2 separate regions of the Homo sapiens genome follow, and region 2 is linked to region 1. Evidence: fine-mapped expression QTL. A gene starts in region 1. The other region holds a variant in brackets. All regions are shown on one strand. Distances are between the middles of the regions. Region 1 holds the start of DNALI1 (dynein axonemal light intermediate chain 1). Region 2 has its middle 110 kb from the start of MIR4255.

Region 1 (2,906 bases):
AAGACAGGGCTGGAAATACACATTTGGGAGCCATCAGCACATAGGTGGTATCTAAAGCCATGAGATTGGGTGACAGCATGCAGGAAATGAGGGTAGATTGAGAAGAGGTCTCCCACCACCCTGCCAGGATCCAGCCATATGTAAGTTCTAGGAGCTCTGTGATACTGGGAGGAAACCCCAGCCAGGAACAGAGGCAGAGTGCCTCCCCCCACACTCCCAAAATCCACGATGTAAAAGCTTAGGCCTTCTCCCAGCCACTGCTCCTACTTTCTTACCTTGGGGGTAGTATGGCATTCAAGATTTCTTCTGCCTGCTTTGTAGGATCTGGGACACAGGGAGTTGAGGGGAGCTTGGTCTTGGGTGGCTGTGGGGCTGAACCTGAAGGTCCAGGCTGCTGGGGGCTGACTTTCAGTAGCCGAGCCTGAGATGAAGGCACAGGTGAGGGCAGGAAATTGTTCAGGAGCTCAGCTCCACACATCCCCAACCTGTATATTGCTCCAGGTCTTCTGCACAGCCCTCCCCTCTTCCTAGCCTACTTTGGGTCGGTCTTCTCAGCAGAAATTATGTCACAGAGCTGAAGGAGGCCATGAAGTCTGGCCCCAACTCAATGCTTGAACAGGTGTTTCTGGCGCATGTGCTTTCACACCTCTGGTGATGGGGAAATCACTACCTAGTCATCTGTTCTTGGACCCGCGTACCATTAAGAAGAGTGAGCCCCATCCATCTCCCTGTGACCTCCTTCCCCATCCTAAATCTGCCCTCTGGGGTCACACCCAACATCTGGGCTTCCTATACAATCCTCTCACCCTCCTTCTCTGACTTCCCAATTCCCTTTACTCCCAGTCGCTGCAATCCCCGTCCCTTGAGATTCCTGACCCTCCATGCGGGAATGTGTCTTTCCCTATCGGAGTTTCGAGGCTCCTTTGTCTCCCGAGCCCCCGTCTTTACCTTGGGGCTCCGTTTCTCCGTGTTCCGGCTCACCAGCACTGGGGTGTCGTACTTGAGCAAAGAGTCTGCGGGCGGAATCATGGCGGAGGCGAGAGTAGCAACCCAGCAGCTGCCCTGTCCAGTGTGGGCCTTGTTTGCCGTCACCATGGAAACCGCCCCCTCACTCCCGCCCCCGCGCTTCTTGGCCTGGGCGGAGCTTCGAAGTGGGGCGGGGCCAACAGCCGGCAAGTTTCATTCTGTGCCTCCTGGGCAGAAACCTCTTGTGCCTGACTTCTTAGGCCTTCTGCTCACCGGTTCGTCCCTGTACTCTTGGAGGCGAGGAAAACGGCAGTTCGAGTCCCTATGCTCCGTCTAGCTAGCGATTTGAAGTGGGCAGATCACCTTTGCCATGCTCCAATTTTGTCACCTGAAAAACAGGAGTCATCTCCTGACTTCTCATGAAGGGTTAAGGGACAATTCCCAAAGGAAGTCATCTGGAGTTCCTAGGTTTTTTGAAGGTTTTTTTTGTTGTTGTAGTTGTTCCCAAAATGTGTTCATTGAGATTGTTTCCCACTCATCTTGATTCAGAGTGCTTTTAGTGCTGCTTCCTCCTGAAGGAACATCCTTCTGTAAGCCTTACTTTTCCTCCTGTAGGCTGGCAGAGGACAGTGGAGCAGCCAACACACAAAACTGCCGTTTGTGCATGGCTAAAGACTGTGGTGATTTTATAGCATCCTGGGCATTTCACATCCATGAAGTAGGAATTGGGGCTCTGCACCAGGCGTTTCTTCTTGTGTTTCCTCTTCTCCTCTTCTGGGGAGGGATGAAGGAGATCCTTTGCGAGAGGCATGTTCTCGTGGGTAGGTCGTCACCGCAAGAAAGGGCTTGTTTTGATTTTTAAATTGAGACGGAGTCTCTCTCTGTTGCCCAGGCTGAAGTGCAGTGGCGTGATCTCGGCTCACTGCAACCTCCGCCTCCCGGGTTCAAACGATTCTCCTGCTTCAGCCTTCTGAGTAGCTGGGACTACAGGCGCGTGCCCCCATGCCCGGCTAAATTTTGTATTTTTAGTAGAGACGGGGTTTCACCACGTTGGCCAGGCTGGTCTCGAACTCCTGACCTCGTGGTCCGCCTGCCTCGGCCTCCCAAAGTGCTGGGATTACAGGCGTGAGCCACCGCGCCCAGCCTGAAGTATTTTTCTAATTAAATGGAGAAATGACAAAGTAGGAGCCAATGGGAAACCTCCCCTTTGCCCCCTGAAGATTCGCTCAAAAATCAATTCACAAAAGGCAGATTAATTGGAGAAAAGGCATACAAATGTATTTAAAATGTATACACGGGGAGAATCACAGTATGATTACCCACCCCGAAAAGGGTTCAGAAGCTTATATACCCTCCTGGTAAAACAGGTTTGTGAGGGTGGGAGAAGGAGGAATTCTGTTCAGGGATTACTAGGCAGAATGAATGAATAAGGGAACAGAGATAAATTTGTAAATAGTTTTTTGTGTTTTTTTTTTTGTTTTGGTTTGGTTTTTTTGAAGACAGGGTCTCACTCTGTAGCCCTGGCTGGAGTGCAGTGGTGCCATCACGGCTCACTGCAGCCTCCAACTCCTGGGCTCAAGCGATCCTCCTGTCTCTGCTGGGACCACAGGCACGAGCCACTAGCCCCTGCCAAATTTAATTTTTTTGTAGAGACAGTCTTGCTATGTTAGGCAGTTTGGTCTCAAACTCCTGGCTTCAAGCGATTTTCCTGCCTTGGCCTCCCAAAGCGCCGGAATTACAGGCTGCAGCCACCGTGCTCGGCTGTAAATAGCTACTTTTGACAGTATAAGGGTCTCTGGTCAGGTGTGATTACATTCTTGGGTGGAGAAGAAAGAAACAATTATTCCTTTTGGTAGTCTGGATCTTAGGCAGATAAAGACCTGTGCTTTGGGAGAGATGATGGGCACTGGAAAGGAACATTGAGGCTTCTTCAGTTCAGC
Region 2 (2,906 bases), 290 kb after region 1:
CCTAACAGAGTGGAAATTCCTCCAAAGGGGGTTCTGGGGCCTGACAACAGGTAGGTGCTCAGCTGGTGCCCTCCAAACAGGTGACTGCATCACTTCCCTTTTGACAGGGTTTTACTCCACCCCCAGCCTCTAGCCCAGTGCTTCTCACCTAAGGATCTTGTTAAAATGTGTATTCTGATTTTTAGGGCTGGGGGCTGAGGCTCCTTGTTTCCAACAAGCTCCTAGGTGATGGATGCTGCTGGCAGGTGCACCACACTGAGTTGCAAGACTCGTCCCTCCAGGCACCCCCTTCACAGGTTCAGCATCCTCGCTGCCATCTCCTCACAAATGCGGTGAGTCTTGGCTTCATCGCCTTTCATGACAGGAATGTCACTCTCTTTAGGGTGAGGCTCCTTTACTATACAATTCCTAGCACTCAAATCCTTCTTCCTTCATGAAACTGAGCTCCATCTCCTGGGAGCCTTCAGGGATTGCAAAGGTCAGGGTCTCTGGATTTGCTCTCCTCCTGGCTGACAGCAACAGTTCCTGCAGTGGGTCTGGGAATGTCTCATTTGTGCATTCAAAAGTTGGTGAGAAGCTGGGTGTGGTGGCTCACGCTTGTAATCCCAGCACTTTGGTAGGCTGAGGTGGACAGATCACCTGGGGTCAGGAATTCGAGACCAGCCGGGCCAACATGGCGAAACCCTGTCTCTACTAAAAATATAAAAATTAGCCAGGCATGGTGGCATGCACCTGTAATCCCAGCCACTCGGGAGGCTGAGGCAAGAGAATTGCTTGAACTCAGGAGGTGGAGGTTGCAGTGAGCCAAGATCGTGCCACTGCATTCCAGCCTGGGCGACAGAGTGAGATTCTGTTTCAAAAAAAAAAGTTTTTGAGGTGCCCCTAACGTGTGGTAAGGACTACATGCAACACTCCAGGGAAGTGTGGCCCGGGAAGGTGCAGTGAGGCAATCGTCTCCCTTAATCTATACACCATACTCCTACTGATAAAGCCTAAGACCGAACTAAATTTCTTTAGCAGCTCCCTCACTTTGCTGGCCCATATTTTCCTTATGGTCACCTAAGGACACCGGCACTTTACCCTCACTAGTTCCTATCTTATAACAGTCTTAATAAGTGACAATTCTGTGACACAACAATCCTAAAGGATGCAATTTATTTTTTAAGTTTTTTTGTTTCCATAGGTTTTTAGGGAACAGGTGAAGTATTTGGTGACATGAGTAAGTTCCTTAGTGGTGATTTGTGAGATTTTGGTGCACTCATCGCCCAAGCAGTATACCCTGAACTCAGTTTGTAGTCTTTTATCCCTCACCCGCCTTCCCACCCTTTCCCCTTGAGTCCCCAAAGTCCATTGAGTCATTCTTATGCCTTTGCATCCTCATAGCTTAGCTCCCACTTATGGCTGAGAACATAGGATGTTTGGTTTTCCATTCCTGAGTTACTTCACTTAGAATAATAGTCTCCAATCCCATCCAGGTTGCTGCGAATGCCATTAATTAATTCGTTTTTATGGCTGGGTAGTATTCCATAGTATATA[T/AT]AAACCACAGTTTCTTTATCCACTAGATTGATGGGCATTTGGGCTGGTTCCACGTTTTAGCAATTGGGAATTGTGCTGCTATAAACATGCATTATTAGCTGCCACCAAACTCCGGTGTGCAAGTATCTTTTTCGTATAATGACTTCTTTCCTAAAGGATGCAATTTGTGCTCCGTAAGAGGAGTCCTTCCTTTTTTCCCCCTGACCATGTGCAGACTTAGAGGTCCTGCAGTTTCCTTGCTGGCTGGCCCATGGGCGTATTCTCTTAGCTGGCTCAATACTCCTTCTGCATTTTTGTCCTGCCTGTCCCCCTACAGCCCACTGCAGTTCAAGAACTACAGACAAATTCATTGCCTCTTTGTCTCCCTTGCCCTTCTAGAACCAGCTGTAGCAGGAGAAGTTTTTTTTTAAAATTTATTTTTGAGATGGGATCTCAGTCTGTCACCCAGGTTGGAGTGCAGTGGTGTGATCTTGGCTCACTGCAACCTCCGCCTCCCAAGCTCAAATGATCCTCCCACCTCAGCCTCCTGAGTAGCTGGGACCACAGGCACACACCACCACACCCGGCTAATTTTTTTTTCTTTTTTGTATTTTTTTTTAATAGAGACAGGGTTTCTCCATGTTGCCCATGCTCGTCTCGAACTCCTGAGCTCAGGCAATCCACCTGCCTCGGCCTCCCAAAGTGCTGGGATTACAGGCATGAGCCACAGTGCCCAGCCTTAGGAGGAGGTTTAAATTGGGAAGCCTGATACAAATGCTGTCCTGTCTTGACAAGGAGTCACTTCAGTACCCAGGCCTTGAAGAACTGTTCCCCAAAAACCTATATGCCATGCAGTGCGTCCTACAGAGAAGGAGCAGGAGGAGGTGGAGCAGATTACAGCACTTCATTCATGCATTCAGTCACTCAGTCAATACACACATGTTAGGTACCCTTGCTTGCATGGCGCTGCTATAGCTGCTGGGGAAGCAGGAGAGAGGAAGACAGACAAAGCTCCTGTCCTCATGGACTAATGGTGTCATTAAGGGGCAGTGGGGAGGGGCAGACAAAAAAAAAAACAAATAGAGGTAGAAGGGAAGAAGCCAGGGAGGAAGATGGGGACAGGGTGTTGCTCCAGGCAGCATAGTACAGTGGTTAAGGACCTGAACTCTGAAGCCAGAATACCTGTGTTCAAACCTGAACTCTGGCTGTGTGGCCCTGGGCAAGTTACCAGCTCTGTGCCTCCATTTTCTCACTCCCCAGCTTTTATAAAGTACCTGTGCAGTGCCTGGCACGTAGTGAGTACTTCCCATTAAGTGAGGTGATCCAGAGAGTCATCTTTGAAGAGGCGATATTCAAGGTTGAATAGGAGCCAGCCATGGACAGACCAGGAG

The links. PIP is the estimated chance that this variant, and not a neighbour inherited with it, causes the effect.
Region 2: its variant is the best candidate, but not a certain one, in a credible set for the expression of DNALI1 in minor salivary gland (GTEx, PIP 0.89).

What each region holds. Positions count from the first base shown.
Region 1 is chr1:37,555,118-37,558,023 of GRCh38, reverse strand. It overlaps DNALI1 (dynein axonemal light intermediate chain 1), which reads right to left and starts at 1,084. Exons shown (of 6, transcript NM_003462.5): 1 at 949-1,084; 2 at 276-421. The coding sequence starts at 1,029. It also overlaps the pseudogene RPS27P9. RefSeq lists enhancers at 1,002-1,296, 1,507-2,477.
Region 2 is chr1:37,267,882-37,270,787 of GRCh38, reverse strand. No RefSeq gene overlaps it. Among named protein-coding and RNA genes, the nearest start is that of MIR4255, 110 kb to the right of the region's middle. The variant T/AT (reference allele first, on the strand shown) is at 1,537.